Homo sapiens: one gene and its partners. The protein of the gene in region 6 purifies or fractionates together with the protein of the main gene of each other region. This does not show direct contact. Each region holds a gene or a part of one and is shown on either strand. Other genes may lie near its edges.

The links.
Region 1: the proteins of ZBTB44 (region 6) and ARHGEF2 purify together in Homo sapiens (affinity purification with mass spectrometry; one large-scale study listed by BioGRID and IntAct). This does not show direct contact.
Region 2: the proteins of ZBTB44 (region 6) and AHCYL2 purify together in Homo sapiens (affinity purification with mass spectrometry, with the first as the bait; one large-scale study listed by BioGRID). This does not show direct contact.
Region 3: the proteins of ZBTB44 (region 6) and RFC1 purify together in Homo sapiens (affinity purification with mass spectrometry; one large-scale study listed by BioGRID and IntAct). This does not show direct contact.
Region 4: the proteins of ZBTB44 (region 6) and USP36 purify together in Homo sapiens (affinity purification with mass spectrometry; one large-scale study listed by BioGRID and IntAct). This does not show direct contact.
Region 5: the proteins of ZBTB44 (region 6) and MYH14 purify together in Homo sapiens (affinity purification with mass spectrometry, with the first as the bait; one large-scale study listed by BioGRID). This does not show direct contact.
Region 7: the proteins of ZBTB44 (region 6) and SUPT6H purify together in Homo sapiens (affinity purification with mass spectrometry; one large-scale study listed by BioGRID and IntAct). This does not show direct contact.

Annotation. Positions count from the first base shown.
Region 1 is NC_000001.11:155,958,048-155,961,547, reverse strand, and holds part of ARHGEF2 (rho guanine nucleotide exchange factor 2), read left to right. Parts: intron 1-3,151; coding exon 3,152-3,228; intron 3,229-3,500. UniProt on the Homo sapiens protein: Activates Rho-GTPases by promoting the exchange of GDP for GTP.
Region 2 is NC_000007.14:129,392,530-129,396,029, forward strand, and holds part of AHCYL2 (adenosylhomocysteinase 3), read left to right. Parts: intron 1-3,500. UniProt on the Homo sapiens protein: May regulate the electrogenic sodium/bicarbonate cotransporter SLC4A4 activity and Mg(2+)-sensitivity. On the contrary of its homolog AHCYL1, does not regulate ITPR1 sensitivity to inositol 1,4,5-trisphosphate.
Region 3 is NC_000004.12:39,310,863-39,314,362, reverse strand, and holds part of RFC1 (replication factor C subunit 1), read left to right. Parts: intron 1-1,431; coding exon 1,432-1,611; intron 1,612-2,813; coding exon 2,814-2,918; intron 2,919-3,500. UniProt on the Homo sapiens protein: Subunit of the replication factor C (RFC) complex which acts during elongation of primed DNA templates by DNA polymerases delta and epsilon, and is necessary for ATP-dependent loading of proliferating cell nuclear antigen (PCNA) onto primed DNA.
Region 4 is NC_000017.11:78,809,815-78,813,314, reverse strand, and holds part of USP36 (ubiquitin carboxyl-terminal hydrolase 36), read left to right. Parts: intron 1-313; coding exon 314-455; intron 456-3,500. UniProt on the Homo sapiens protein: Deubiquitinase essential for the regulation of nucleolar structure and function. Required for cell and organism viability.
Region 5 is NC_000019.10:50,276,622-50,280,121, forward strand, and holds part of MYH14 (myosin-14), read left to right. Parts: intron 1-135; coding exon 136-280; intron 281-1,461; coding exon 1,462-1,668; intron 1,669-3,415; coding exon 3,416-3,500. UniProt on the Homo sapiens protein: Cellular myosin that appears to play a role in cytokinesis, cell shape, and specialized functions such as secretion and capping.
Region 6 is NC_000011.10:130,308,418-130,311,917, forward strand, and holds part of ZBTB44 (zinc finger and BTB domain-containing protein 44), read right to left. Parts: intron 2,058-3,500; exon of another isoform or gene 1,763-2,057; intron 1-1,762. UniProt on the Homo sapiens protein: May be involved in transcriptional regulation.
Region 7 is NC_000017.11:28,700,205-28,703,179, reverse strand, and holds the end of SUPT6H (transcription elongation factor SPT6), read right to left. Parts: coding exon 2,930-2,975; intron 2,835-2,929; coding exon 2,668-2,834; intron 2,240-2,667; coding exon 2,052-2,239; intron 1,742-2,051; coding exon 1,555-1,741; 3' UTR 501-1,554; downstream 1-500.

The DNA of each region.
Region 1 (3,500 bases), on a different chromosome or scaffold from region 6:
AATCCCAGCACTTAGGGAGGCCGAGGCGGGCGGATCACGAGGTCAGGAGATTGAGACCATCCTGGCTAACACAGTGAAACCCTGTCTCTACTGAAAATACAAAAAATTCGCCGGGCGTGGTGGTGGGCGCCTATAGTCCCAGCTACTCAGGAGGCTGAGGCAGGAGAATGGCGTGAACCCAGGAGGCGGAGCTTGCAGTGAGCCCAGATTGCACCACTGCACTCTAGCCTGGGTGACACAGCAAGACTCCATCTCAAAAAAAAAAAAAAAAAAGAATCAACCTCCCTTTATGCAGCCCATACAACAGTGAGACTCAGTGGGAGAGAAAAATAGGATCTCTGTGGCAGAAAAGCCTGAATTCTGCAGTTAACTTTATGGACCATACAGGGCCTTCCCTATCAGTATTTTATAATTTCTTTGGTCCTTGCATGCCTAGAGAGCTACTAGTTTTACTGAGGAAGACAAAGAAGCTCTCAGACTGGAGGACAGGATCAGTTGATTCCCCCAGCTGGAATCCCAGCTACCAGGGATGGGAGTAAGCAAGAGCTTTGGGGAGCGCAGCCAGAGGAGGCCCAGAGGAGGGGACTGAGCCGGTGAAGGACAGGCAGGGAGGAGAAGAGACAGCAGGGCAGAGGGAGCAGATCAGGGGCCAGGGCACACTTTCCCAGGCTCTCTTTCCAGAATTTGTCTGCACTGGCAAAGTCTTTCTCACCTAAATCAAAGCAAGAGAATAGCAGGCCTTGGCTTTGGGGATGAGATGTGAGGGACAATAGGAAACTGTGATACCTGAGGCCAAAGCCTGCCTGAGCCTCTGTACCTGTGTCATGAAATCCCTGCTCCCTGGGTTTGGATATTGTCAGTCTTCACCAGCCTCTTTCCTTTATCCCTTTCTCTCCTTCCCATCTCTCCCACGCAGCAGCTAAGAATATAAACCATGGGGGATTAAAAATAGCAAGGCTGGAGAGTGTTATTTCTGAAGCATTTAGCAAAAGCCCTCCCCTTCTGTGTGCCCACAGTTTAGTAAAATCCCCAAGGGCAAAGGAGGAGTGTATGTTTTCTCTCTCTTTTTTTTTTTTTTTAGAAACAGGGTCTCGCTTTGCTGCTCAGGCTGGGGTGCAGTGGTGCAGTCATAGCTCACTGTAACTCAAACTCCTGGGCTCAAGTGATCCTTCTGCCTTAGACTCCTGAGTAACTGGGACTACAGACCTGCACCACCACACCCAGCACATTTTTAAATTTTTTGTAGAGATAAGATCTTGCTATGTTGCCTAGGCTAGTCTTGCTCAGACTCCTGGCCTCAAGTGATTCTCCTGCCTCAGCCTCCCAAAGTGCTGGGATTGTAAATGTGAGCCACTATGCCTCGCCCTCTGTTTTCTTGATTGTGACATCCAAGTTTTATGGAATTGATCTTTGTTTCCTCCCTCAGTCTTGGAGTGCTGACCCCATAGGATCTGAGAGCTTGGAGTGTGAAGCAGAGAAAGAAATTGAAGCAGGGGCCTGCTGGGGTTGAAGGAGATGGGTGGGTGAGGGATGGTCTTTCAGTCCTCTGCGAGAGGAAGGAAACTTTCTCCCTCCCTACCAAGCTCAAAATTAGAAGTGGGAATATGCCAGGACAGGGAGAATTTAGGTCAGATAGCCGTAAAGGTCTTCCTTAGTTAGATATTAGAAATGGAATTTAAAGGCTAAAAAATGTGGTCCAGGCTGGGCACGGTGGCTCATCCCTATAATCTCAGCACTTTGGGAGGCTGAATCAGGCAGGCAGATCGCCTGAGGTCCGGAATTCGAGACCAGCCTGGCCAAGATGGTGAAACCCCATCTCTACTAAAAATACAAAAATTAGCCAGGCATGGCAGCATTCACCTGTAGCCACAGCTACTTGGGAGGCTGAGGCATGAGAATCGCTTGAACTCAGGAGGCAGAGGTCACAGTGAGCAGAGATCACACCACTGCCCTCCAGCCAGGGCGACAGAGCGATACTTGGTCCCAAAAAATAAAAAATAGGCCAGGCGCAGTGGCTGATGCCTGTAATCCCAGCACTTCGGCAGGCCAAGGCAGGCAGATTACTTGAGGTCAGGAGTTAGAGACCAGCCTGGCCAACGTGGTGAAACCCCGTCTCTACAAAAATGCAAAAAATTAGCCAGGTGTTGTGGCGTGCTCCTTAATCCCAGCTGCTCAGGAGGCTGAGGCAGGAGAATCGCTTTTTCCTGGGAGACAGAAGTTGCAGTGAGCCAAGATGGCACCACTGCACTCCAGCCTAGGCGACAGAGTGAGACTCCGTCTCAAAAAAATAATAATAGAATCAAATTAAATTAAAAATAAATAAAAAATAAAAGTATGGTCCCTCTTGCTCTGGGGAACCTTATGAATCTCACAAAAATCTTGGACCCTGTCACCCAAAAAAATACACGAGTTATGTTAATATGTAAAACTATTTACACACCTTCAGAAGGTTTACAGAGCCACTGAAGCCTGACATCCCAGGGGGTCTGTAGGCCCTAGGTTAAGAAACCTGAATCAGTCAGGTAGAAAGGGTTTTCTGTAGACACTGAGTGATCCCTGTGGTTCCTGCTAGCCCACAACGCTGTTTTGTCTGATAGCACATGAATCTTTCTGCACCCTGCCCGCCCCCCACCCCCCACCCACACTGTTTTTAAGCTGTAAGAATGTGTGACCAGGCGCGGTGGCTCATATCTGTAATCCCAGCACTTTGGGAGGCCGAAACTGGTGGATAAACCTGAGGTCAGGAGTTTGAGACCAGCCTGACCAACATGGTGAAACCCCGTCTCTACTAAAAATACAAAATTAGCCGGGCATGGTGGCACACGCCTGTAGTAGTCCCAGCTCCTTGGGAGGCTGAGGTAGGAGAATCGCTTGAACCCGGGAGGCGGAGGTTGCAGTGAGCCAAGATTGCACCATTGCACTCCAGCCTGAACAACAAGATGAAAACTCTGTATCAAAAAAAAAAAAAAAAAATAGAATGGGTGAGGTGTGAGAGGTCTGAAAAAGTGCAAGCAGCCAGAGGGAAGAGAGGCCAGGAAGAGGGAAACTGGGAGCTCTAACCTGATGGGATAAGCCTGGTCCTTGGGAAAGAGGGAAGCAGCTGCTCAGACCGTCTAGTGCTGACTGTTCTCCCACCTTCATCCCCTTCCAGATGTGCTAGTGCTGCTGATGACAGATGTACTGGTGTTTCTCCAGGAAAAGGACCAGAAGTACATCTTTCCTACCCTGGTGAGACATTCATTCTTCACCTTTCTCAGCACAGACAAGTGTTTTAGTCTCTTCTTGCTTTCCTGCCCAAGCCCACGAGAGCTCTGGAGTCCCCCAGAGTCAAACAGCTATAATTGTTACTATTACCGTAATAATAAAAAATAAGAGCAGCTCACAGGTACTGTTACTGTGCACAGGCACTTTTACACCTGTGGGAAAAGATTATTTTCGTCCTCATTTTATAGATGATGAAAGTAAAGCTTCAAGTCAGTTAAATAATTTGTCAAGGGTTG
Region 2 (3,500 bases), on a different chromosome or scaffold from region 6:
ACCTTTTAATACCATCGCCTAGGGGGTTAGTTTTTAACATATGACTCTGGGGGAGGAGAACATACATTCAGACCATAGCAATCCCCAAATACTTTAGTGTGTATTTTCTACAAAGAAGGACATTTTCCTGTACTAGCAGTATAACCATCAGAAGTAGAAAATTAACATTGATTCATTATTACCATCCAATCCTTAGATCCCACTGGAGTTTCGCTTGTTGTTCTGATAATATTTTTCTAACAAAAGAATCCAGTCCATGGTTATATGTCACATTTAGTTGTCATGTCTTTTTAATCTTCATTAGTACAGAACAGTTTCTCAGTCTTTCTTTGATTTTCATGACCTTGACACTTTTGAAGATTACAGATGAATTATTTTGTAGAATTTCCTCAATTTGGATTTTTCTGATGCTTCCTCATTATGAGATTCAGGCTATACATCTATGGTGGGAATTCAGGGAAGTGATATATCCTATCAGGTGACACATGATTTCAGTTTGTCCCAGAACTGATGATATTCACTTTAATCCCTTGATTGAGGTGGTGTCTCCCAGGATTTTCCTCTGTAAAAGTTTTTTTCCCAGTTTATAATTAATATGTTTTTTGGGCTGGGTGTGATGGCTCACGCCTGTAATCCCAGCACTTTGGGACGTCAAGGTTGGCAGATCACTTGAACCCAGGAGTTGAAGACTAGCCTAGGCAACATGGTAAAACCCCATCTCTACAAAAAAATACAAAAGTTAGCCAGGTGTGGTGGCATGTGCCTGTAGTTCCAGCTACTTGGGAGGCTGAGGTGGGAGGATTGATTGAGCCCGAAAGGTCGAGATTGCAGTGAGCAGTGAGCTGAGATTGCACTGCACTCCAGCCTGGGTGACAGAGTGAGACCCTGTCTCAAAAATAAATAAAAATAGAATTAATATGTTTATGTGAGATAGTACTATGAAACTGTAAATATCTCATTCTTTATCTTACTTTGATTTATTCATTATTTTTATTTGTATGGAATCATTGTTTCCTATTTTATTTAATAGGTTATAATCCATTACTATCATTACTTATTTACATGATCATCTTGTTCCCAGTTTGACCAGGGAGAGCCTCTTCAGTGTGGCTTCTGTGACTTCTTTTGTCTTTTGATATATCCCTTTCATTCTTTGAACATTTCCTTGCTTTTGGTACAAGATCACCTAAGCTCATCTTGAACATTCCATGCCCTACTCTTGGAACCAGCCATTTCTCCCAGAATGCCTAGCTCCTTTTAGTGGATCTGGGCACTAATGTGCTCTTTGCTTTTGAAATGTCATTGTTCCCAGATCCTCTTTTTTCCCTCTCCATACATGTAACTGGAGTTCCAGAAGGCAAAGAGGGAAAGAATCCATAGACTCCCATAGACCCCATAGATTTTGAGCACTCCGTTGTGATTTTTTTCTGCCAGTCTTCTTCTTTTTGTATTTCAGTTCAGTAATTTCTTTTTTTGTTGTTGTTTTGTTTTGTTGAGTAGGGTCTCACTGTGTCACCCAGGCTGGAGTGCAGTGGTACAATCATTGCAGGCTCATTGCAGCCTCAAACTCCTGGGCTCAAGCGATCCTCCTGCCCCAGCCTCCCAAGTAACTGGGACTACAGGCATATACCACTATGCCTGGCTAATTTTTTTTAATTTTTTGTAGAGAAGAGATCTTGCTGTGATGCCCAGGCTGGTCTCAAACTCCTGGCCTCAAGCGATCTCCTGCCTCAGCCTTTCAAAGCGCTAGGGTTACAGGCATGAGTCACTGTGCCTGGCTCAGTTCAGTAATTTTTATTGGTCTATCTTCAGGTTCACTGATTCTGTCCTTGGATGTGCCCGGTCTGATGATAAACCTGTTGAAGGAACTTTTAATCTGACTTTTTTTTTTTCCTGGCATTTGTATTTGACTTTTTTTTTTTTTTTTTTTTTTTTGAGACAGAGTTTTGCTCTTGTTGCCCAGGCTGGAGTGCAACGGTGCAATCTTGGCTCACCACAACCTCCACCTCCTGGGATCAAGCGATTCTCCTGCCTCAGCCTCCCGAATAACTGGGATTAAAGGCATGTGGCACCAAGCAGCTAATTTTGTATTTTTAGTAGAGATGGGGTTTCTCCATGTTGGTCAGGCTGGTCTCAAACTCCCGACCCCAGGTGATCTGCCCACCTTGGCCTCCCAGAGTGCTGGCCTTTACAGGCCTGAGCCACTGCACCCAGCCTGTATTTGACTTTTTATTGTTTCCATCTCTGCTGAAATTTTCTATCTATTCATAGATGTTGTCTATCTTTCTCAACTAGATCCTTTAACATAAACATATTAGTCCAGCCTGGGCAATATAGCAAGATCCTGTGTATAAAAAAATATAAATAAATAACATAAACATATTAATCATAGTTATTTTATATCTCCTGTCTGATCAAACATCTGGCTCATCTGAGAGCCTGCCTCTGTTGTTTACTTATTTCCTGACAGTGGGTTTTTTTTTTTACTTTTTGTATGTCCTGACATTTTTAATTGAGTGGTAGTATATTAGTTTTCGTTATAGTCATGAATTGGGCTGAATTTAGAGTTCATTGTATATCAACAAAGGCTTCAAATTCCTCCAGCAGTGGACTGCTATAACCTTGTGATTTGAGGTTACCAAAGGACATTCCTCAGTGCTTCTGCTTTACCCTCAGCCTTCAGCTACTTCTGCACATGTGTGCCACAGAAGTGTCCTCTTTTCAAGTACCTGCCTCATCTGCCGCACTAGACTGCTGCTCTTTGTTTCCTGGGGCTAAGCACACGGTGAGGGCAAGTGGGGTTCTTGGATCTCTGGTGCAGTCTCAGTCTTAGGCAGACCTCTGTGAGGGGCAGGGTTTTCTCAATATTCCTGCCTCTCCTATCTGTAGCAGCCAAACTTTGCCTTGAATCTGTGGTGGGTCTTGGGCAAGACATATTTTCCTGCCCTTCCTGGAGAGCTGGAGAGGTAGCAGATCCTTACTTTGTATCAGTGAACTGTCCTGGGCCCAAGAGGTTTTCCTGTGCCTCTCCCAGAGGCAGAGTTTTTGCTTCTGCCTTCCTCCAGACACAGTGGATCTTTGCCTAGTCCCTAATGGCAGGCCCAATTCCTGCTCTTCCTACAGCTTGAGGCTTTGGTTCCTATGAGAGAAGAGTGTAGGGAAGTGCCCAGGTTTCATGTCTGTTTCTGAGCACAGCCAATCAGCTCCCTGCCCCAGTCTTTGTTTTGAGCACTGGGTGGAAGCCTCTGGAAAACAGCCTGCATGTGAATGGGAAATCTACTTGTGTCTGGAGCTTCAAAAAATTCCACATTGACACACTTTCCCACACCCAGCCTTTCGTAATTGTTCAAAAGTTTAGCTGATATTTTCTTATTCTTATCTGTGGCAGCCATTTCTTCCCCCCATGCACTGCCAAAGGTGAAACAGTCTTCCCTCTCTCTTTAAAAGGATTTGTCACTCTTTGGAGGGCAGTTCACTTCTGTGCTTTATGACCTCAAATC
Region 3 (3,500 bases), on a different chromosome or scaffold from region 6:
AGATGTTTGGGATATGGGATATAGGGGCTTGCATGTGCAATTTTTCCAGGGTTGTTTTGAGTTTGTTCAGAAGTAGTTAAGTTCCTGTAGTGTTACAGTAGATCATTTCAATCCAAGAACCCATAAAGGCTTCAAGGGACCCTGAGATATTGTTAGTCAAACCTTTTCTTTCCAAGCACCTTCATAGCTGTTTCTTTTTGTCTTCCGAGAAAGATTCTTCATCTGAATGGTGAAGGATTGAACTTACATGGAGGCAGTCTTTGAATTTTGGTTGGCTGCTGCTTTTCAAGCCCATTTTAAGTTTATTAATCTCAATTCTCTATTAAAAGAGTAATAAGTAACTTGGAATGTCATGTATAATTTTCATTTTGTTTGGTTGTATAATTTTATTGAACCATTGCAAAAATATATAACTCAACATAGTTCCAATTAAGATTTAATGTCTTTTCCATCCAGCTCTCTTTGGCAAGTATCTCTTATATTATACATTATGAGAGTTATCTTTCCAATCCAGAGATAATACGATCTTGCCTTTAAGTTACTAGAAGATTGCTAGATTTACTATCCTAGAGTAATGAGCAGAGAGGAAGGCACGAGCTCACACTTGCTTAGCTTTTTAGAATCAAAACTTTCCCTTTTTAACAATAGCAAGAGTTGCCTTTTTTCCCTTTTTTCCCATAAAACAGTAAAAATTTTTTATTAAGCATTATAAGTTGCATTCAGTAGCCTTCAGATATGCCACACCACAATCCATTGGCAGACCATCCAACCCAGCAGCAGTTTGTTCTTGTACAATCCATGAGTTCGGGCAAAACTCCCTTCAACTTACAGTTAAGATCCTACTTAGCTCTTGCGGGCAGGGATTGGGGAATTAGACCTCATTTCTGATCACTAATGTGGTGAAAAGCATCAGAAGTATTTGAAAATGATAAGAAGTGATTCTGATTTTAAAGTACATTGTTTCGAAACATTAACAGAAACATCAAAATGATAGGAGTATACCTGCTTCTATTAAATTCTTGTTGGGAAAGTTCTTAAGAACAAGCAGTTTCCTGAATAGCAAGAGTTTCTACAGATGGATTGCATTTGGTTGTTTATTTATAGTTATGCAAGTTAACTAGTAGTTTAGATATGAAGAGGGCATAATGGAAAATAGTATGAATGGGTAATTTTAATAGCTTTGCTAACAGTGTTGGATGTATGTTTTTCACTGCTTGTTTTGTAAGTTTATTAAACGTTAGCCATATCAAAATTTCTTAGGATCTAATTTCAGGTGGTGCTTATTTGCTGTAAATTTCCAGCAAACTTTCCATGCCAAGGTTATTTATGATGTGAAATGAGAAAAATCAACTTCCTGCAGTTTTGATGCCAAATGTTTCTTTGGAAAGCTACCATGTAATTTCCTCTCTGCTTGAACATTTTGGTTTTTAGGGAGCTGAAAATTGCTTGGAAGGCCTTATATTTGTAATCACAGGCGTGCTGGAGTCTATTGAACGAGATGAGGCCAAGTCTCTAATTGAACGTTATGGGGGAAAAGTAACAGGAAATGTCAGCAAGAAAACAAATTATCTTGTCATGGGTCGTGATAGTGGACAGTCCAAGAGTGATAAGGTGGGTACTGCTTTGTTCTCAACACCATGACACCTCCTGCCTGCCTTGGCACACTCTTGATGTGATTTGCCCTTTACTCAGAGTTAAATGAAGGAAAGAAATAGAAAAGTAATTTCTTGCCTACATTATTTCTTCTCCACAGAAGTGTTATTGGCTCTGACACCAGGATTTTGGTTTTCCAATGGAAGGCATAGTTCCTGTTTACTTGACTTTTTTTTAGTGTATTTAAGTTTAAGTCTTTTTTTATTTTTGAAGATAGAAACAAATGCAGTTTTCTTTTTCTTCCAGTCCGAAGTATTCCTATATATGCCACTGTATACACCATCTTAGGTTTTTTTAAATTGGTGTTTTTAGAAAAAGAATCAGCGGCCTGTTGGGTAGGATTGTGTTTAGCTCCAAACAGCAGAATATCTGATTAACCGTGGATTAAACAGCTGCTAATTTTTCTCACAAGAATTCTGGAGGTATTGCTGGGATAGTTCGGCATCTCAACGATGTGGTTCCTCCATCTGTCCTTATTGTGTTAACTTTTGTCCTCATGCATGTTGCCTTGTGGTTGCAAGGTAGTTGCAGCTCTAGGCATTTAAATTCTTATTCAAGGCAGGAAAAGGGAACAGTGGCAAGTATGTCATAAGAGCTGTGACTGGCCTGACGAGAGTTTTCCCAGAAACATGTCTTATAGAATTTCACATAAGGCTCATTGGCCAGAGCTGTCACCTGGCCACTCAGAGCTGTATGGGAGGTTGGGAAGAACCAAGACGTTTCTGGTTGCCTTGGACCAGTCATCATTCATCACTTGAAGAAGGACACATTGGAGTTCCATCAGCAGGGAAGAAGGTGGGGGAAATGTCTGCCATATGCATTAAATATGGGAGAAGGTATGAAGAGCTGGTCTTAGGCCCTAGTGGCCATTGCCCCTTTCTAGGGGAGGAAAGGTAAAGCAGTCCACAAAAGTAGAAATGGACCACTTCCCATGCCAACCTGCTACTCTTAGGGAATGTATCTGTTATTTTCTTTCTTTTCAATGTTACTTTTTCAATGAATGTGCTATTTTTTGTTTTTCTTTTTTAATTCCAGTGTTATCTTAATTTACGAATGTGGTTTTTCACCTACTAATAGGCCCTAGAATTTTTTTTTTTGTAAGAGAAGGGAATGGTAGGATGCAGGATGCAGTTTTGATGGTTTACATTTTTAATCAACAGGCCGCAGCCTTGGGGACAAAAATTATTGATGAAGATGGCCTGTTGAATCTGATTCGGACTATGCCAGGCAAGAAATCCAAGTATGAAATAGCAGTTGAAACTGAGGTTCGTATAAAATGAATGTGATTTAAGTTGGTGTATATTAACTTTTTAATTTCATAGACATATGTCTTGGGTGGATACAGGCTTGTTGGCTGAAAGATTAACATCCCTGTCTACCACAAATGGACCACCTTAGTTCCTTTTGAGCTGGAAGACTCTGCTTCAAGATGTCTACTTTGTTGTTTTTCCTTATCTTTGTCAGGGAATATGAGTAGAGAAAGGACAGTATATTGCATATAACATATCTACTTATCAAACTTTCCTTATTTTCCATATTACTATTATTACTACTATTTTTTAATTTTTTGAGACAGAGTCTAGCTCTGTCCCTCAGGTCGGAGTGCAGTGGTGTGATCTCGGATCACTGCAACTTCTGCCTCCTGGGTTCAAGCGATTCTCCTGCCTCAGCCTCCTGAGTAGCTGGAACTACAGATACCTGACACCACGCCTGCTAATTTTTATATTTTTAATAGAGACGGAGTTTCACCATGTTGGCCAGGCTGGCCTTGAACTCCTGACCTCAAGTGATTCACCCACTTCAGCGTCCCAAAGTGCTGGGATTATAGGTGTGAGCCACTGTTCCCG
Region 4 (3,500 bases), on a different chromosome or scaffold from region 6:
CTGCTTTGTACGTCTCTGCAGAGTGTGGCTGAGGTGTTTGAGGTTCTTGCTTTCTGGTGCATTGAACTCTGATCTTGGAGGAATTCTGACTCTAATTTGCCCTTGCTCTGCTTATATTCAGCAGATACTTGGGGCTGATCTCTCAGCCTCACTGTGGTTGAAAGGCAAAGGGAGATTCCAGAGAAGTGGTTAGGACTGGCAGGGTTTCCCCAGGCCGTGTTTCTGCCTTTGCCCCGCCTTAACTTATTCTAATTCTCTCCGTTTCTGTAATGCCTAGTAAGAGAATTCCCTACTTGTTTTCTTCCTTTGACAGAATTCCAGGCTCTAAGAAAAGTCCCGAGGGCCTCATCTCCAGGACAGGCTCCTCCTCCCTTCCCGGCCGCCCGAGTGTGATTCCAGATCACTCCAAGAAGAACATCGGCAATGGGATTATTTCCTCCCCACTGACTGGAAAGGTATTTGTGAGAATGATGGAGGCCAAAGTGGCTGGTCTTGGTGCTCCTCACAGACCTCCTCACACTTGGGAAGTTGGCCACAGTGGAAGGAATTTGCAGGCAGTTTGCACTATTCTAGTTGATGTTATTTCTTTTCTTTTCTTTTTTTTTTTTTTTTTTTTTCGAGACAGAGTCTCGCTCTGTCATCCAGGCTGGGGTGCAGTGGTGCGATCTCCAATCTCGGCTCACTGCAAGCTCTGCCTCCCGGGTTCCCGCCATTCTCCTGCCTCAGCCTCCCTAGTAGCTGGGATTATAGGTGCCCGAACCACGCCCGGCTAATTTTTTTTGTATTTTTAGTAGAGACGGGGTTTCACCGTGTTAGCCAGGATGCTTTCGATCTCCTGACCTCAGGATCTGCCCGCCTCGGCCTCCCAAAGTGCTGGGATTACAGGCATGAGCCACCGCGCCCGGCCAATGTTATTTCTTAAACTGGTCATCAGCTGACATTGGCTATAGAGAAAGAGGAGACATGAATGAGAAAATTCTGACCCAACAAATTAGAATTGTCATTCACAGATCTGTTCTACTCATGAGACCAGCACCACTTACAGGTGTCGTGACAGGTGTGCCAAGCAAACTTTCTGTGTGCACTCCTTTTATTTCCTTTATAATGCCAAGCAAACTTTTTTTTTTGGAGACAGGGTCTCACTCTGTTACCCAGACTGGAGTACAGTGGCACAATCATGGTTCAGGGCAGGCTTGAGCTCCTGGATTCAAGCCACCCTCCTGCCCCAGCATCCCTAGTATTCGGGACTATCAGTGCACTACCACACCCAGCTAATTTTTAAATTTTGTGTAGAGACAGGGTCTCACTATGTTGCCCTGGCTGGTCTTAAGCTCCTCAGCCCAAGCAATTCTCCTGTCTTGGCCTCTCAGAGTGCCAGGATTACAGGCACCAAGCAAACTCTTAACCGTAAGCGTGTAGGAAAAAATATCCTTTTTTTTTTTTCTTTGAGACGGAGTCTCATTCTGTCGCCCAGGCTGGAGTGCAGTGGCGCAACCTTGGCTCGCTGCAACCTCCACCTCCCAGGTTCAAGCGATTCTCCTGCCTCAGCCTCCCGAGTAGCTGGGACTACAGGCGTGTGCCACCATGCATGGCTAATTTTTTTATTTTTAGTGGAGACGGGGTTTCACTTTATTAGCCAGGATGGTCTCTATCTGCTGACCTCCTGATCCACCCGCCTCAGCCTCCCAAAGTGCTGGGATTACAGACGTGAGCCACTGTGCCCGGCCTGTTCTCACATTTAACGGGGAAAATGTGAGTAGTTTGTACCAATGTTAATTTCCTGATTTGGGTAATTCTGCTGTGGTTATGTAAGAGAGTGTCTTTGTTCTTTGGAAATACACATGGACATATTTTGGGGTAAAAGAACATCATGTCTGCAATTTACTCAAATGGATCAGAAATAGAAATATGTGTATATGCATACGTACATAGTCATACATATATACACACGTACATATACATACAGAGAGAGGATGATAAAGGTTATGTGGTTACAGGTTAACCATTAGGAACTACCCTCTAAGTTACCTTTGTGTGTATTTGAAATTTTCTGCTAGAACTGTTAAGAATTCAGTTTCACTAAGTGGATTCATGAGCAGTTTCCTCATTAGAACACAGTGATCATTTGAAGTGGGGTGGACCCTCTTGATGACTGTTTCTTTTTTTTTTTTTTTTTTTTTTTTTGAGACAGAGTCTCGCTCTGTCACTGAGGCTGGAGTGCAGTGGCGCCATCTCAGCTCACTGCAGCCTCTGCCACTATGCAGCCTCCGCCTCTTGGGTTCAAGCGATTCTCCTGCCTCTGCCTCCTGAGTAGCTGTAATTACAGGTGCCCGCCAGCACTCCCGGCTAATTTTTGTAGTTTTAGTAGAGATGGGGTTTCACCATGTTGGCCAGGCTGGTCTGGAACTCCTGACCTCAAGTGATTCGCTCAGCTTGACCTCCCAGAGTCCTGGGATACAGGCATGAGCCACCGTGCCCGGCCTGGATGACTGTTTTTGATGGATCGTCTTCCTCTCCCTTTAGAATGAAGAGTTGAACCCCACACACAGGCAGTCAGGGCCTTTCACAGTCTGCAGGGGTTTTGGTCATTTACGTACATCTGTATTTCTCTTCACATTAAAGAAAATAGAAGCTGAAATTAGAAGCATTAGAATTGAAGTGGCAGTAAAATACATGATATAATTGCAAAGTTGGTGGTCACTGTAGCCCAGACTAGGAAGTTAGGAAGCAGCCTGGGCCTGGGACTGTGACTCATGTCTGTAATTCCAACACTTTGGGAAGCCGATGTGGGAAGATCAGTGGATCCCAGGAGTTCGAGACCAACCTGGGCAAAACCCTGTCTCTACTAAAAATGCAAAAGCTAGCCAGGTTTAATGGCACGTGCCTGTATTCCCAGCTACTCAGGAGGCTGAGGTGGGAGGATCACTTGAGCCAGGGAGATTAAGGCTGGAGTGAGTCATGATCATACCACTCCACACCAGCCTGGGCAACAGAGCAAGACCCTGTCTCAAAACAAATTTAAAAAGTAGCCTGGGCAACATAGATCCCATCAGCACAGAGAATATTCAGTAAGCTGTTGGGGGAGGATCACTTGAACCCGGGAGGTTGAGGCTGTATGCAGTGAGCCATGATCACGCTGGTGAATTCCAGGCAAGGTGACAGAGTGAGACCTTGTCTACAAAAAAAAGAAGAGGGGGGCCGGGCACTTTGGGAGGCTGAGGTGGGTGGACCATTTGAGGTCAGGAGTTTGAGACCAGCTTGCCAATATGGTGAGACCCTGTCTCTACTAAAAATACAAAAGTTAGCTGGGCATGGTGGCGTGCGCCTGTAATCCCAGCTATTCGAGAGGCCGAGGTAGGAGAATCGCTTGAACCCGGGAGGTGGAGGTTGCAGTGAGCTGAGATTGTGCCACTGCACTCCAGCCTGGGTGACAGAGCGGGACTCCATCTCAAAAAAAGGAAGCAGCCTGGGCAACATAGAAAGACCCCCATCTCCAAAAC
Region 5 (3,500 bases), on a different chromosome or scaffold from region 6:
CAGATCTCCTGAGGAGCATAACATGAGGCCCTCATATTTTAAGGAAACATGAAAAGGAGAAACAACCAGCTCCCCCAAAGCCCCTGCCTTCCTCTGCTCTGAAATTCCCATCCTCTCTCCTTTCCCCCAATAAAGGTCCAAGAGGGAACAGGAGGTGACGGAGCTGAAGAAGACTCTGGAGGAGGAGACTCGCATCCACGAGGCGGCAGTGCAGGAGCTGAGGCAGCGCCACGGCCAGGCCCTGGGGGAGCTGGCGGAGCAGCTGGAGCAGGCCCGGAGGGTGGGTTGGGGCAGGGGGACAGGGCAGGGGGGCCACGGGGAGGGCAGGGCAGGACGCGGGGTTGGAGGAGGTACCGCTGGCTGGTTCTAGGCTAGCTCATCTCCCTGGGCCCCTTTCCTCACGCATTCATGTGCATCTTTCATTCAGCAAGCATTAATGGGGTGTGGACTATGTTCCAGGAGCATTGCTGGGGAACCAGCCATGAACCCAACAACCAGCACTGCCTTCCCTTGTGGAGCTTTCCTTTTAGTGAGAGAGGCAGAGGGTAAACAATATAAACACTTTCAGTTTATATTGGGGTGATAAGTGCTATGGGGCCATAATGAACAGGAAAAAGGGATCAGAATTCTAAGGCGGGTGAGTTTTTAAGTAGAGAGGCTGTGGAGGTATTCTGCGAGAAGGTGACATCAGGGTAAAAAACTGAGGGAGTGGCCGGGCATGGTGGCTCTTGCCTGTAACTTTGGGAGGCTGAGGCAGGCAGATCACTTGAGGCCAGGAGTTCGAGACCAGCCTGGGCAACATGGTGAAACCCCATCTCTACTAAAAATACAAAAACTAGCTGGGCGTGGTGGCACACACGCCTATAGTCCCAGCTACTTGAGAGGCTGAGGCAGGAGAATCACTTGAACCCAAGAAGCAGAGGTTGAAGTGAGTCAAGATTGTACCATTCCACTCCAGCCTGGGTGACAGAGCAAGACTCTGTCTCAAAAAACAAACAAACAAACAAAAATGGGCCAGACGTGGTGGCTCATGGCTGTAATCCCAGCACTGTGGGAGGCTGAGGTGGGTGGATCACCTGAGGTCAGGAGTTCAAGACCAGCCTGGCCAACATGGCAAAATCCCATCTCTACTAAAAACACAAAAAATTAGCCGGGCGTGGTGGTGGGCGCCTGTAATCCTAGCTACTTGGGAGGCTGAGACAGGAGAATCACTTGAACCTGGGAGGCGGAGGTTGCAGTGAGCAGAGATCGTGCCTTTGCACTCCAGCTTGGGCAACAAGACTGAAGCACTGTCTCAAAAAAAAAAAAAAAATTGGGAGTGAGGGGTGAGCTATTTGTTCACTGGGAGAAGTGTGTTCCAGGCAGAGGGAACAGCCAGTGCAAAGGCCCTGAGATGGGAGTGTGCCTGGCCTGGTCCAGGAAAGGCCTCATAGATCTTTGCTCATCTCCTTCCCACACCAGGGCAAAGGTGCATGGGAGAAGACCCGGCTGGCCCTGGAGGCCGAGGTGTCCGAGCTGCGGGCAGAACTGAGCAGCCTGCAGACTGCACGTCAGGAGGGTGAGCAGCGGAGGCGCCGCCTGGAGTTACAGCTGCAGGAGGTGCAGGGCCGGGCTGGTGATGGGGAGAGGGCACGAGCGGAGGCTGCTGAGAAGCTGCAGCGAGCCCAGGTAAGTGGGGTGGGCAGGGCAGAGGTTTCTGCTGTGTGACCTTGGTGACATGCCTGCCCTCTCTGGGCTTCTATTTGGTCCATATCAAACCAATTGTCTCGTTTGGCTCTTCCAACATAATCATGTACAAGTCTGGGCACAGTGGCTCATGTCTGTAATTCTAGCACTTGGGAGGCCAAGGCAGGAGGATTGCTTGAGCCCAGGAGTTCGAGACCAGCCTGGGCAACATAGTGAGACCCCATCTTCAGAAAAAAAAAAATTTTAATTAGCCAGGTATGCTGGCATGTGCCTGTAGTCCCAGCTACTCAGGGGACTGAGGAAGGAGGATCCCTTGAGCCTGGGAGGTCGAGGCTGCAATGAGCTGTGATTGTGCCACTGCACTCTAGCCTGGGCAACAAAGTGAGATCCTGTCTCAAAATAATAATAATAATACCCAGTACTTTGGGAGGCCGAGGCGGGCAGATCACCTGAAGTCAGAAGTTCGAGACCGGCCTCACCAACATGGAGAAACCCTGTCTCTACTAAAAAAAAAAAAAAAAAAACACAAAATTAGCCGGGCGTGATGGCGCATGCCTGTAATCCCAGCTACTCGAGAGGCTGAGGCAGGAGAATCACTTGAACCCGGGAGGCAGAGGTTGTGATGAGCTGAGACCGCGCCATTGCGTTCCAGCCTGGGCAGCGAGAGTGAAACTCCATCTCCAATAATAATAATAATAATTCACTCATTTAAGATGTGCAATTCAATGGATTTTGGTATATTCACAGAGTGGTATGGCCATCACCATAATCTAATTTTGGACCATTTTCATTATCCCAAAAAGAAAATCCTATACCCTTTAGCTATCATCCCCCACTTCTCCCCCACCCCACCCAGGGAACCACTAATCTCCTTTCTGTCTTTACTGATCTCCCATTCTGGAGATCTTATATAAATGGAATCCTACTATATATGGGTGGCCTTTGTGGCTGCCTTCTTTTACTTAACATAACGGTTTCAAGATTCATCTGTGTTGCAGCTCGTAGCATAATTCCTTTTTTATTTTTTAATTTTTAAAACACCAGCTGGGTGCAGTGGCTCATGCCTGTAATCCCAGCACTTTGGCAGCGGAGGCGGGTGGGTCACCTGAGGTCAGGAGTTCAAGACCAGCTGCCTGACCAACATGGTGAAACTTCGTCTCTACTAAAAATACAAAATTAGCCGGGTGTGGTGGCGCATGCCTGTAATCCTAGCTACTTGGGAGGCTAAGGCAGGAGAATCACTTGCACCTGGGAGGCGGAGGTTGCAGTGAGCCGAGATTGCACCATTGCGCTCTAGCCTGGGCAACAAGAGTGAAACTCTGTCTCAAAAAAACCCCAAAAAACAACAGCACGCAATAGATCCATATACCTTTCTATTGCCGAATAATGCCCGTTGTATGGATATTCCACATTTGTTTATCCATTCGTTTATTGATGGACATTGGGGCTGTTCCCGCCTCTTGGCGATGGTGAGTAATGCCACTGAGAACATTCCGGTACGAGTTTCTGCATAGACCTATGCGTTCATTTCTTTTGGGTATGCACCTAGGAGCGGGATTGTTGGGTCATGTGGGAACCCTATGTTTAAGCATCTGTGGATCTGCCAGACTGTTTTCCACGGCAGCTGTAACATTTCACATTCCTGCCAGTGTGGTAGAGAGTTGAGGCAGATGGGGTCACTGGGTGGAAGCCACGATTGGAGGGCTTCATTCCCGTCCCTTCCCTGCAGGCTGAACTGGAGAATGTGTCTGGGGCGCTGAACGAGGCTGAGTCCAAAACCATCCGTCTTAGCAAGGAGCTGAGCAGCACAGAAG
Region 6 (3,500 bases):
CAGCCTTGAATTTGAAACCTGGGTCGGCCACTTATTGTGATACTCTAGGCAAGTCATTTAATGCTTTTAGATACCAGTTTCCTTACTGCAAAATAAGATACTAGTAGCAATGTCAAAGTGTTAATGTGAGATTTAAATAAGATAATGTATAAAATGTTTAGCACAGCTGGCATACAGAAAGGGCATAACAAATGTTAGCATTATTATCAACACTGTATTAGTTCATTCAGCCTACACAACAGGTTCTAGCTGCTACATGGCTACACATACCCATGCAACTGTTTATAGTATTCTTCTTCATCACCTTATATGTTCTAAGAACCTTGGGTAGTGTATGTATTTTACTGAGATTAAAGACAGAATGAGGGTGAATGGGTCCAAGTGCAAGCATTCTCCATCTTCCCACTCCACTCCCTAATGGAACTAGATGTTCACTCTGTTATTGAAAGCAGTGATTGTGGAGTCCTAGTAAGGGAAAAGGAGTCAGGCGGGTGGGAAAAGGGTACAGCAAAAAGAAAAAGCAGATAAGGTATAAGTCTGCCTTTCTTCATGGTCCAAGACACACAGCCCTCTTGCACAAATAACTCACAAGCTTTCTGCACTCAACTTATCACCAGACTCTCAGCTGACAGAAAAATGCAAGTTAGCTCACTGCAACCTTGGCCTTATCAGTACTGCACATAGCCCTCTCTGCAGCACACAGCAGAAGCATCATCCTGTAACATGCCCAGCAAGCCATTGTCTCCTGGCAGTCAGCTTCTCTCTTGCTGATCTGCCCGTTGCACCCTTGCAACCAACCTACTTTCATACTTTCTCTAATAAATCTGCCCTTCTTTACCTACAATTGCCTTGGTAATTCCTTTACCACCTGCAACGCCAGCCTCAGCTAGTGTGACCTATGACAGTGAGGATGAACACAGGAAAACACACTACAGGCACAGTTTTGCTTTTCAGCACTTGGTTGACAGGAGGCTGATAAACTGCCTAATTGTGCTCTGCTTACTTTAGATGAACACTGCTCCCTCTTAAAACTTCATTTGAGATCACATAATTATGAATTTATATCAAATTTGGTCCAACCCAAACAAAATGTGTTATCTCCACTGATCACATATCCAAATGCCTTTTTATCTGTACATAGCATATTTATGCCAGTTTTGTTGTAGATGGAGTCACCTGGGCGCAGTGGCTCACGTCTGTAATTCCAGCACTTTAGGAGGCCAGGATTACACTTCAGGAGGCCGAGGCAGGTGAATCACTTGAGGTCAGGAGCTCGAGACCAGCCTGGACAACATGGTGAAACCCCATCTCTACTAATACAAAAATTAGCTGGGCGTGGTGGTACATGCCTGTAATCCCAGCTACTAGGGAGGCTGAGGCAGGAGAATCGCTTGAACCCAGGGGGCAGAGGTGGATTGCAGTGAGCTGAGATCGAGCCACTGCATTCCAGCCTGGGCAACAGAGGGCGACTGCATCTCAAAAAAAAAAAAAAAAAGTTAAAAAAGTAGATGGAGTCATAAAACCTCTACCAACTACCTGCCTCTTTAAAGACATGATTTAAGTAAAAGCTACAGTTCTATTTTTATGGAATTTTTATTTAAAAATATGGTATCTAGGCCTACGGCTACAGGCTTACATGTGTAATCTTAGCACTTTGGGAGGCCAAGGCAGCAGGATCACTTGAGCTCAGGAGTTTGAGAGATCAGCCTGGACAACATAATGAGAATCTATCACTATTTTAAATCACTATTTAAGAAAAAGAGCTGGGCGCAGTGGTGTGTGCCTGTAGTCCCAGCTACTCAAGAGGCTGAGGCAGGAAGATCCCTTGAGCCCAGAAGTTCTGGACTGTAGTATCCTATGCCGATTGGGTGTCTGCACTAAATTAGGCATCAACATGGTGACCTCCAGGGAGTGAGGGACCACCAGGTTGCCTAATGAGAGAAGTGGCCCAGGTCAGAAACAGAGCAGGTCAAAACTCCCGTGCTTATCAGTAGTAGGATCACATCTGTGAATAGCCACTGCACTCCAGCCTGAGCAACACAGTAAATCCCCCGTCTTTAAAAAAAAAAAAAAGTAAGCATGGAATCCACTTCTCTGCTAACTTCTAAAAACTAGTCTTAGTTCTCTTTGCCAGAGGAAGCAGAATCTAATTTTAAAATTTAAAAGTACTTCTATGTGGCTTCACATAACATAATTTGTCTATTGCTAATTCTTCTGAGCTTGATGTGAGAATGTAGTAGATACTAAAAGGAGTATGGTAAAGGTAAACAATACTTCATCTTTAAAAACTAATTTTAATGAGGTTTATCCAAATATAGTTTTTTTTTGTTTTGTTTTGCTTTTGAGATGGAGTCCCGCTTTGTCACCCAGGCTGCAGTGCAATGGCGCAATCTTGGCTCACTGCAACCTCCCCGGTTCAAGCAATTCTCCTGCCTCAGCTTCCCAAGTAGCTGAGACTACAGGCATGTGCCACCATGCCCGGCTAATCCAAGTATAGTTTTAAAACATTATTTTGACTTCTACACTATGTACATACTTTACATATTCAAAAATAAAATCCTAAGTAAAAACTGAAACCTATGAACCATATCAAATTGGTAGCATAACCAGAGAAAAGTATTTCAAGTGACTTTTGAACACAGTACTCATTATACATTCTTCATGCAATATAGTCTAAATACGAAAATAAATGCAAAGAAATCTTAAACTACATGAAGCTTATTGGTATTAGCAATACCAGCACTATAATTTTAAAATGATTTTATGTATACAGTGGGAGAAAGCAAATAAGTTTATTATTTTTTTTGGAGACAGGGTCTCACTCTGTCATCCAGGCTGAAGTGCAGTGGGGTATGAACATGGCTCACTGCAGCCTCAACCTCCTGGGCTCAAGTGATCCACCTGCTTCAGCCTCCTGAGCAGCTGGGAACACAGGCACACACCACCACGCCTGGCTAATTTTTTTATTTTTTATAGAGATGGGGTCTCATCATGTTGCCCAGGCTGGCCTTGAACTCCTGGGCTCAAGCAATCCTTCCACCTCGGCCTTTCAACGTCCTGGGATTACAGGCATGAGCCACTGTGCTTGGCCAGTTTATTAACTGTATTAAAAACCAAGATTTTCATTTAAGACAAGAGACAAATATAGAGTCAAGGAAGAAAAAGTCTGCTTGTTAAATAGGAATTGGAATATCACTCTGAACTCATGATTAAACAAGCAAAAACCTTTTTCTTAGTTCTCTCCTCTCAAAGCACCTAGAAGCAATGATACTGCAGCAGCAACGAATATGCCAAACATCCAGAACTTGGTTTCTATATACGATTTCTCATTAAAAAGAACCAAGACTCCCTGGATAAACAGCTCTTTCCAGAGGTGAGCAAAGAAAGTATAAGATAAACCCTGGAGTAACTCGTGTCAGAAAGCACTCCAAGATTAATGGGGAGCAGGGGTGTCAAGACACACAATAGTCAGCTTGAAATGGTTCCTACTGACCAAATCT
Region 7 (2,975 bases), on a different chromosome or scaffold from region 6:
TGGCCTTTCCCTCCTCTAAGTGGCTCTGCAGAAGGTGCTCGTGGTACTACCAGAGACTGACCTTCCCAGCTGGTGGTCTAGCTCCTCCCTTGTAGCCCTTTTGTGCTGAAGGGAGCTGACTTGAGTTCCTGGCAGAGCTGGCCCCTTCCCCCAGATCTTGATGAAGAAAAACAAGGGGAGGGAGTGTGCCACGTCTGGGCAGCAGTGGCCTTTTCTGACTTCTCTGCTGAGCCCCAAGCAAAGGAAAGGGAGCCAGAGGCCCCACTCTCCCAGCATTGACTCACAGAGCTGTGAGACGAAGCCCTTGTGCAGAAACAGGGATGGCAGGAGTTCAGAACAAAAAATGCAGTGGGGCAGGGACAAAGGGCCAGGGCCAGTGTGTTGGAGGGGAGCAGGTGAGCAGGGCCCCATCCTGGGGCAGGAACACCTTACTGCTGAGAGCTTGCAAGAGACCAAGGCCCAGCTGGGAAAAGGGAAGAGATGAACGGCAGAGGCTCAAGTTGAGAAATCCAGATTTACTTGTGGCCTTTCTCCAGGGTGCCAGAGAAGACCAGCAGGCATGGGCGGATGGGGCAGCTGTGCTGTGGGTGAGTGAGTGGGTGTAATAATACCGGGTAACATTTGCGACGTACCAGGCGTTGGGCCAAGGAGCTTGCACACGCTGCCTTGGTCCTCACAGCAGCTGATGAGGCAGGTATCACTATCTCCATGTTACAGGTAAGAAAGCCAGCTGAAAGGCAGCAGGAACTGGCACAGGGTCACCCGGCTGGGAAGTAGAGCAGGGATGTGCCCCAGGCAGTCTGATGTAGAAGCTGCCTCTAGTCTATGAATCTTTGCCTCTGATGGATCAGAAGAGGGAGTCAGGGGAGTCCTTGGAGCTCCAAACACTGCTTTGAAAGCCACCCCTCAAAGAGCTGGAGAGTTGGAGAGAGAGGCTTTGGCAAGAGCTCAATAGAAACACTGTTTATTCAAATGACAGGCAGGAAGCGGTGGCAGCAGCAGGGGGGAAAGGGCAGCCAGGCAGGGGCTGGGCAGTGCTTCCCTGTGTCCCCTGCAATCCTGCTTGGACAGCCACCCGGCTGTTGGCATCAGGGTCAGAAATACTTTCCCTCCTCTCCCTCCTGCCCCAAACTGAATAAATAGCATCCCTCTCCCCACGAGAGCTAGGGGAGACTCATGTGCTGAGTTTGGTGCCCCAGTCACAGCCCAGAGTCCGGTGAGGGCAGAAGTTCAAAATGGCTTGTAGGGAGTAGAATACAAAACTGTTCTACTCATTCTCACCTTCCTCTTCCTCCTCCCTGCCACACTCCCCTCCCAGCCTGGTCCCAGGACAGGTGGTCGGTGAGGGTCTGGAGCGGGAGAATTGTTGCCTAGCATACACTGAGCTCAAGTTCACAAGGCCATCCAGCCTGTCACCCATCCGGGTTGACCACCAAAGAGAACGTCTCACTTCACGCCACTTTATGGACATAAAAGGAGGGGCAGGGAGGGAGGCAGTGGGCAGCCAGGCCTTTCCCAGCCTCAGAGGTAACCAGAGTCCGAGGAGCAGGCCCCCTACCGATCCATCTCGTCCAGGAGTGGGGTGGCATCGCCAGCAATGGACATGGGGGTGCTTTCGATCATGGGGCTGGGGGAGGGCCGAGGTGTCAGCCGCTGCTTCTGTTTCCGCCGTTCTGCCTCCTTTTCCTGCAGCCACTGCTCCGCCATTTTTCCCCAGTCGATGGCTGCATGGCTGTTGGACCTGGGAGGGGAAGAAAAGTTGAGATTGGGACTTTGCTAGAAGGAAGTCTTCCCACCAATCACTGTACCCTTGCAGAAAGGAACCTCATACCTATGGGCAGCAGCCCCTCTACTGGGATAAGGCAGATACAGCAGCAGCTGGCTGCCATACTGCCCTCTTCCGTCTTCACCCAGAAACTAGTGTTCCTGGCATATCATGTGGTCAGGGCCCTCAGAGGATCCAGAGCACCTGCCTCTGCTAAGCCTTTCGGCCTCTTGACAACACCTGCCCCTACCACTGACCTGCACTGTGCCACCATCCAGATACTTACTTTGGCTGCTGCTGCCGTTGCCGGGAGCTGGAAGAGGGCTGGGGCTGGGCCTGGGCCGACTGTGGGGTGGTGCTGGCCTGGAGCTGGTGGTACTGAGGGGTGGTGATGGGCTGGCTTGGGGTCGTGTAGGAGTAGCTAGGGGTCATTAGTGGTGTGGCCACTGGCTGCTGGGCTGGCGTTGGGAATACCTGGAGAGGCATGAACAGTTAAATAGGGATGGGTGTGGGGCTTGTTTGGCCTTGCTGTGAATTCTGGGTAAGCGCAAGGGTGGGCTCAGCAAAGCTTTCCAGATGATCTTCCACTGAGTATGTGCTTCTGACCAGCAGTGGGAAGCCTGCAGGTCAGCACCGAGCACACAGTGGTGCCCACTGGTCCTGACCATGTCAACTTTCTGGTGGCTTGCGGGTTCCAAAGATCCCAAAGGCCCGTGGAAAGGTTATGCCCTCTCTTACCCTCTTCCCCTTCAAATGGGCCTAAGGACAAGAAATATCTGTTGGAGACAGTTACCAAGGCCGTGGCAGCCCCATCTGTGCATGTGAAGCCCCTTGTGGGCAATGCGAGAGGGCAGTCTATGGGCCCCACCCTGCACAGGGAGCTTCCTCCCCAAGCCACATACGTGGTAAGCACTGCTGCCGCCTCCACTGCCGCCATAGCCGTACTGGCTGGAGGCCCACTGGGCTGGGGTGGCATTAGGGTTCTGTCCTTGGCCTGTCACCGCAGCAATGGCACTGAACATCTGTGAAGTCATGTTCTGAGGCAGGGCATTCACAGCCCGTGTCAGATCTGTAAGCACACAGAGGTGGGGAGGGGCATGTTAGAGGTGAAAGTCCCTTTAGCTCCATCCTTCCCACCTCCAGTCCCAGGCTCAAGCTCCTCACCTGCAAGGTTGATGTTGGCTGGGGTAGCATTGATAGAGGCAGGTGT